Linked DNA regions of Homo sapiens. The protein of the gene in region 1 purifies or fractionates together with the protein of each later gene. This does not show direct contact. Each region holds a gene or a part of one and is shown on either strand. Other genes may lie near its edges. The genes, in order: ACOT2 and ZNF331.

The links.
Region 2: the proteins of ACOT2 (region 1) and ZNF331 purify together in Homo sapiens (co-immunoprecipitation; one large-scale study listed by IntAct). This does not show direct contact.

The regions. Positions count from the first base shown.
Region 1 is NC_000014.9:73,572,118-73,576,374, forward strand, and holds the end of ACOT2 (acyl-coenzyme A thioesterase 2, mitochondrial), read left to right. Parts: intron 1-1,270; coding exon 1,271-1,473; intron 1,474-2,168; coding exon of another isoform or gene 2,169-2,252; exon of another isoform or gene 2,253-2,290; intron 2,291-2,790; coding exon 2,791-3,396; 3' UTR 3,397-3,538; downstream 3,539-4,257. UniProt on the Homo sapiens protein: Catalyzes the hydrolysis of acyl-CoAs into free fatty acids and coenzyme A (CoASH), regulating their respective intracellular levels. Displays higher activity toward long chain acyl CoAs (C14-C20).
Region 2 is NC_000019.10:53,572,386-53,576,199, forward strand, and holds part of ZNF331 (zinc finger protein 331), read left to right. Parts: intron 1-3,814. UniProt on the Homo sapiens protein: May be involved in transcriptional regulation. May play a role in spermatogenesis.

The DNA.
Region 1 (4,257 bases):
TTAAATATGTTATTCTACTTGTACATGTGCACCAGGAGGCATATTCCTTATAAGAGGCCAGATGAGCAGTCTGGATTAATTTAAAAAAAGAGCAAAGTCAACTGGAAACAGTCCAAATGTCCATCAACAATAGAACAGATTAATAAATTGAGGTATATTTCCAGCAGTCAAAGTGATTGAACTACAGCTACAAGAATCAACATCTATCAAGATATACAAAAGAAAAGAAAAAAAAAGAATCAACATGGATGAATCTCCAAACCACTGTTGAGTGAAACAGTCAAACCCTAGGAGAACACATTCAGTATCATTCCATTTAGATACAATTCAAAAACTAGGCAAAATAAAATATTAAGGTACATAATCTAAGTGGTAATACTATGAAGAAAACCAAGAGTGATACACAGAAAGTCCAGGATACTGGAAAGAGAGGAAAGGGCACAGGGGTCTGTGGGACGTTGATGGTTTGCGGGTATCAGCACTGAACTATGTCTTAAAAGTGTTGCCTGTAAGGTGTTTGCATTTTTTTTTTTTTTTTTTTTTTTTTTGAGACAGTGTCTCGCTCTTTCGCCCAGGCTGGAGTAGTGGCACAATCTTGGCTCACTGCAACCTCCACCTCCCGGGTTCAAGCGATTCTCCTCCCTCAGCCTCCCGAGTAGCTGGGATTACAGGTGGCCGCCACCACACCCAGCTAATTTTTGTATTTTTAGTACAGATGGGGTTTCACCATGTTGGCCAGGCTGGTCTCGAACTCCTGACCTCAGGTGATCCACCCGTCTCAGCCTCCCAAAGTGCTGGGGTTACAGGCGTGAGCCACCGGACCCAGCCTGCATTATTACTATTTAATTTTGTGTGAAACACAAAACCTTTAATGTAAATGATAAAAATATCAGTAAGTGGAGTCATTCAGAATGAGTAGCCTTTTGAGTCTGTCTCCGTTGAGTAAGTGCATTCTGTTGAGTGCACTGGAGAGGAATTTGTGCTCTTCTATGTAGCAGTCTTTCTTTTTGTTTCTTGGTGGTGCACCATTAAATGGATTCATTCACCAGTTAAAGGACATTTGGGTTGTTTCCAGTCTTTGGCTACAACGAGTAAAGTCACTATAAACACTTGCCAGAGGTTTCTGGACGAACAGGTTTTCATTTCTCGTGGGTAGATACCTAGGAGTGGGATTGCTGGGTCACATGTGTGGTAAGTATATGTTTAACTTAAACCATCCAACTGTTTCAGGAATAGCTTAGTTTTGCATTTTGTTTTGTTTCTTCCCAAGAACCTGGGCCCTTTCCTGGGATTGTGGACATGTTCGGAACTGGAGGTGGCCTGCTGGAGTATCGGGCTAGTCTGCTGGCTGGGAAGGGTTTTGCTGTGATGGCTCTGGCTTATTATAACTATGAAGACCTCCCCAAGACCATGGAGACGCTCCATCTGGAGTACTTTGAAGAAGCCATGAACTACTTGCTCAGTCATCCCGAGGTTAGTTCTTCTTTCAGATTTATGGGCTATGATGTATCAGGTCTCTTCTTAAATGGTCTGGGTTTTCACAGAAGTTAGCTCATTCATGACAGCCATTCCCTACCCCAACACACACTACCTTTTTTAGTCACTTCTTATAGACAGTTTCTTTTTTTGAGATGGAGTCTCACTCTGTTGCCAGGCTGGAGTCCAGTGGTGCGATCTTGGCTCACTGCAACCTCCACCTCCCAAGTTCAAGTGATTCTTGTGCCCCACCCTCCCGAGTAGTTGGGATTACAGGCACCTGCCACCATGCTTGGCTAATTTTTGTATTTTTAGTGGAGGCGGGGTTTCACAATATTGGTCAGGCTGGTCTTGAACTCCTGACCTCAAATGATCCACCTGCTTTGACCTACCCAAGTGCTGGATTACAGGCATGAGCCACTATGCCCAGCCTAATATTTGTATTTTTTTTTTTTTAAGTAGAGATGGGGTTTCGCCATGTTGGCCAGGCTGGTCTCAAACTCCTGACCTCAAGTGATCTGCCCACCTTGGCCTCCCAGAGTGCTGGAATTACAGGCATGAGCCACCACACCTGGCCTCTTATAGACAGTTTCTATTCAATTCTATATTACTATATTTCCTGCTAGTAAAGAGATTCGTAGTTGTTATTATGCAATTTTAAATTCCAGTATTTTTTTTTTTTTTTTTTTGAGATGGAGTCTTGCTGTGTCACCCAGGCTGGAGTGCAATGGCATGATCTCGGCTCACTGCAAACTCCACCTCCCAGGTTCAATTGATTCTTCTGCCTCAGCCTCCCACGTAGCTGTGACTACAGGCACGTGCCACTACTGCCCGGCTAATTCTTGTATTTTTAGTAGAGATGTTTCACCATGTTGGCCAGACTGATCTCAAACTCCTGACCTCAAATGATCCACCCGCCTCAGCCTCCCAAACTGTTGGGATTACAGGCGTCAGCCACCACTCCCGGCCATGAGATGATGTACTTGTTGATGATGACTCAGTTTAGTTATGACAGTGGGAATGGGTGGCTCAGGTGGGAGACAGAAAAAGATCATGGGAGATACGAGATTAAGGAACTGAGAAACCAGAGAATAATTGATAGATCTTCCACATGGTTATCACCAAGAGTGGTGATGGACAAATTGTGGAAAGGAAGAGATAGAGGGGAGGTAAATTCTCAAAGTTGCAAATCTGGGTAAATGGTAGAACCTAGATTCAGACTCAGGTTCAACTAACTTCCAGGGTGGACACAACTCACCATATTCCACTGTTTGTGGAATCATTCTTCTTCTTTTTCCTTTGTCCCTTTCTCAGGTAAAAGGTCCAGGAGTTGGGCTGCTTGGAATTTCCAAAGGGGGTGAGCTCTGCCTTTCCATGGCCTCTTTCCTGAAGGGCATCACGGCTGCTGTCGTCATCAACGGCTCTGTGGCCAATGTTGGGGGAACCTTACACTACAAGGGCGAGACCCTGCCCCCTGTGGGCGTCAACAGAAATCGCATCAAGGTGACCAAAGATGGCTATGCAGACATTGTGGATGTCCTGAACAGCCCTTTGGAAGGACCTGACCAGAAGAGCTTCATTCCTGTGGAAAGGGCAGAGAGCACCTTCCTGTTCCTGGTAGGTCAGGATGACCACAACTGGAAGAGTGAGTTCTATGCTAATGAGGCCTGTAAACGCTTGCAGGCCCATGGGAGGAGAAAGCCCCAGATCATCTGTTACCCAGAGACAGGGCACTATATTGAGCCTCCTTACTTCCCCCTGTGTCGGGCTTCCCTGCATGCCTTGGTGGGCAGTCCTATTATCTGGGGAGGGGAGCCCAGGGCTCATGCCATGGCTCAGGTGGATGCTTGGAAACAACTCCAGACTTTCTTCCACAAACACTTGGGTGGCCACGAGGGGACAATCCCATCAAAAGTGTAAATTTTATTTGATCATGTGGCCTCTCTGTTGCTAATCTCTCCTGGAAACATCTGCCACATTTAGTGTGTGTATGTGTATTCATTCTTTTGTTTTTAATAACTAAAGTTTTTTCCCCTCATTATTAAAATGAATTTACCAGTAAGAATGAGTTTTTAAGATTTTTATAAACTGTATACTTTATCAGTTTGGGAAGGGAGTAACTGTAGGAAACACAAGAAGTGGAAAAAGTCTCCTCTTCCTATCTCAACACACAACTGATAAGGCTTTAGTTCTGAAAGGAAAAGTGAGTAACATCAATTAACAGTGTCTGGTACGTAAATGGAGTTCAATAATTATTTGCTGAATGAGTATAAGTGAGCCAGGCGTGGTGGCTCACACCTGTAATGCCAGCACTTTGGGAGGCTGAGGTGGGCGGATCACTTGAGGTCAGGAGTTTGAGACCAGTCTGGCCAACGTGATGAAACCCCATCTCTCCTAAAAATACAAAAAATTAGCCAGGCGTGGTGGCAGGCACCTGTAGTCACAGCTACTTGGGAGGCTGAGGCAGGAGAATTGCTTGAACCTGGGAGGCGGAGGTTGCAGTGAGAAGAGGTTGCAGTGAGAAAAGATTGTGCTACTACCCTCCAGCCTGGGCAACAGCAAGACTCTGCCTCAAAAATTAATTAATTAATTAATTAAATGATTACCTACTGTGGAAGAAAAGCACATAATATAAAAAGTGTATCAGATTTGAGTTCCTCCTTTAAGAATGGAAGTTAACATCTTGCCTATAAACTGATTACTAGTTAGATATAAAACTACTAAAAATTTTCAAAACCAATACATATTTAGTTCTTTGATATCTTCTCCTTGGATTAATAA
Region 2 (3,814 bases), on another chromosome or scaffold:
GGGAGACTGAGGCAGGAGGATCACTTGAGCCCAGGAGTTGAAGGCTATAGTTAGCTATGATCATACCACTGTACTCCAGGCTGGGTAACAGATCAAGACCCCATCGCTAAAACAATAAACAAATAGGAATATATATATTTTATATATATACACACACATATATATTATATATACACACACATATATATTATATATACACATATATATTATATATACACATATATATTATATATACACATATATACATATACAATATATACATATATAGTATATATTATATATATAAACTGCTTACTGTGTGCCATGCACTGTGCTAAGCACTGTGTGTGTAAGTACATTGCATTTCGTTCTCACAGGCAGATGAGACAGGCACAATCATTGTCTATTTTGGAGATGAGGATACTGAAACACAGTGATGCAGTCAGACGGAGGGAGCAGGAGCTAGAATCAGATTTAACAGTTTTGGTCCCCAGATTCCTTGCTGCCAGCCACCATGTTCCACTTGCCTCCAGGCATAATGCCTACAGAAATTTAAAATATGACCTTTTCTCGGCCAGGCGCAGTGGCTCACGCCTGTAATCCCAGCACTTTGGGAGGCTGAGGTGGGCGGATCACTGGAGGTCAGGAGTTAGAGACCAGCCTGGCCAACATGGTGAAACCCTGTCTCTACTAAAAATATAAAAATTAGCCGGGCATGGTGGCGCACGCCTGTGATCTCAGCTACTCCGGAGGCTGGTGCAGGAGAATCATTTGAACCTGGGAAGCAGAGGTTGCAGTGAGCCAAGATCACGCTACTGTGCTGCAGCCTGGGCAACAAAGCGAGACTCTGTCTCAAAAATAATAAAAAATAAGGCCGGGTGCGGTGGCTCACTCCTGTGATCACAAGACTGGCAGGCCAAGGCAGACGGATCACGAAGATAGGAGTTCGAGACCAGCTTGGCCAACAGAGTGAAACCCCATCTCTCCTGAAAATACAAAAATTTGCCGGGTGTGGTGGCGCATGCCTGTAATTCCAGCTACTTGGGAGGCTGAGGCAGGAGAATCACTTGAACCCGGGAGGTAGAGGTATAGCATTTCTTTTTTTTTTTAAGTTGAGATTTTTTTCTTTTTTTCACTCTGTTACTCAGGCTGGAGTGCAGTGGCGCGATCACAGCTCACAGCAGCCTCAACCTCCTGGGCTCAAGCAATCTTCCTGCCTCATCTCCCTGAGTAGCAGGGACCACAGGTGCACACCACGACACCCGGCTAATTGTTGTGTTTTTTCTTAGAGATGGGATTTCGCCATGTTGTCCAAGCTGATCTTGAACTCCTGGGCTAAAGGAATCCACCCACCTCAGCCTTCCAAAGAGGCTGGATTACAGGCGTGAGCCACTGCACCTGGCTCAATAGCATTTTGACTTCTGGTTGTTATAAATTTGATTAATACTCAATCAAAAAAAATTTAAGGCCAGGCATGGTGGTTCACGCCTATAATCCCAGCACTTTGGGAGTCCAAGGCGGGCAGATCACCTGAAGTCAGGACTTCAAGACCAGCCTGGCCAACATGGTGAAAACCCGTCTCTACTAAAAACACAAAAATTAGCCGGTGTGCTGGTGTGCGCCTGTAATCCCAGCTACCCAGGAGACTGAGTGAGGCAGGAGAATTGCTGGGACCTGGGAGGCAGAGGCTGCAGTGAGTCAAGATCATGCCACTGCACTCCAGCCTGGGCAACAGAGCAAGACTCCCTCTCAAAAAATAAAAATAATTTTTAAAGAATTTTTGAAGTTTTGAGCTTGAAATTTTTCCTCAAGTTCTATGTCCTCTAGCATTTCGTTTTTTTAAAGGAGGGCATATAATTTCTAAGCCAGAGGTACTGTCTTATAGAATTAAGGGAAAGAGCCTTGATGGTTGTGAGGGAAGAGACAAGACAACAATACGGAGGAAAGTGGGAGCCAGTCAGCCACCCGTACAAAGAGCATCCCCACAGGGCAGGGAACAGGCACACCCTGAGGTGTTGGAGAGCTTTCTCCAAGAGCTCAGGCCCAAAGCCTCTAGGAAAGAAAGATCTTACCACGAACTTGATCTTCACCCCATTTCCCTGTCACCTTGTTTTTCCTGTCATATTTAACCCCATTTTATGTGCTGCTGGTGCTGCTGGTCTGTGGGCCACGCCTTTAGTAGCGGGTAGAGGTGACAGGGTCCTCTGCCCTTTATCATTCCTGAAAGTGGGTTAGCCTCGCTTTAAGTGCCCGTTTTCTTTTTCTCATATCTAGGTGTTGGCAGTACTGCTTCCCGGGTGTTGTTAATGTGTCACCACCATGAAGCACCTGGTGTCTGGTTGTAGCTCCTCTTTGCCATTGGCAGTCATTGGCACTGCTTACATTCATCACACTGGGGGCTCAAATGGTGCGCGCCTATCACTGCCCCTTCATTTATCAGCTGTTATAATTTAAAGAGAAACTTTGTTTCATCTGCTAATTGCTCATGCAGTGGCACTGTTCATATTGGATAAGAAGGATAAAAACTTTGTTCTTTTTCTTTGTCAGTTTTTATGTTGTATTTTTTTCTTTTCTTTTTTTTTTTTTTTTTTGAGGCAGGGTCTTACTCTGATTCCCAGGCTGGAGTGCAGTAGTGCAGTCTGGGCTCACTGCAGCCTTGACTTCCGGGCTCAAGCCATCCTCCCACCTCAGCCTCCCAAGTAGCTGGGACTATAGGTGTACACCACCACACCTGGCTAATTTTTGTATTTTTTTTGTAGAGACAGGGTTTTGCTATGTTTCCCAGGCTGGTTTTGAACTCCTGAGCTCAAGTAATCCACCCACCTCGGTCTCCCAAAGTGCTGGGATTACAGGCGTGAGCCACTGCACCTAGCCAATTGCCAGTTTTTATAATAAAGGTCTGGTTTCCTAGCGTGTTCCAGAGCTGGCCATTTAACATTTTGTAGTATCATTATGAACTTATAGATTTAAACGTTTGCTGTTTCTCAGTCCTTTGCAGTTAGCCTCCTTATTGATGCTCAAGTTCTAAACTTTTCCTTATTGTTCTTCTAAACTTTTTCACATTTTTTATTAAATTTAGTCTCGTAAATTATCTTTTTTGTTGCTTTTGAATGTTGTATTCTTTTACCCAGTTGCTTTTTTTTTTTTTTTTTTTTTTGAGACGGAGTCTTATTCAGTCGGCTCACTGCAACCTCCACCTCCCGGGTTCAAGCGATTCTCCTGCCTCAGCCTCCCAAGTAGCTGGGATTATAGGCTCACACCACCATGCCTGGCTAATTTTTGCGTTTTTAGTACAGACAGGGTTTGTTTGTTTTTGTTTTTTGTTTTTTGTTTTTTTGATATGGAGTCTAGCTCTGTCACCCAGGCTGGAGTGCAGTGGCACAATCTCGGCTCACCGCAACTTCTGCCTCCCGGGTTCAAGCGATTCTCCTGCCTCAGCCTCCGGAGTAGCTGGGATTACAGGCACCCACCACCATGCCCAGCTAATGTTTGTATTTTTAGTAGAGACAGGATTTCACCGTGTTGGCCAGGCTGGTCTCGAACTCCTGACTTCATGATCTGCCCACCTCGGCCTCCCAAAGTGCTGGGATTACAAGCGTGAGCCACCGTGCCCAGTCTGTTTTTTTGTTTTTGTTTTGAGACAGAGTTTCATGCTTGTTGCCCAGGCTACAGTGCAATGGCATGATCTCGGCTCACTGCAACCTCTGCTTCCCAGGTTCAAGCAATTTCCCTGCCTCAGCCTCCCGAGTAGCTGGGATTACAGTCATGCGCCACCATGTCCGGCTAATTTTGTATTTTTAGTAGAGACAAGGTTTCTCCATGTTGGTCAAGCTGG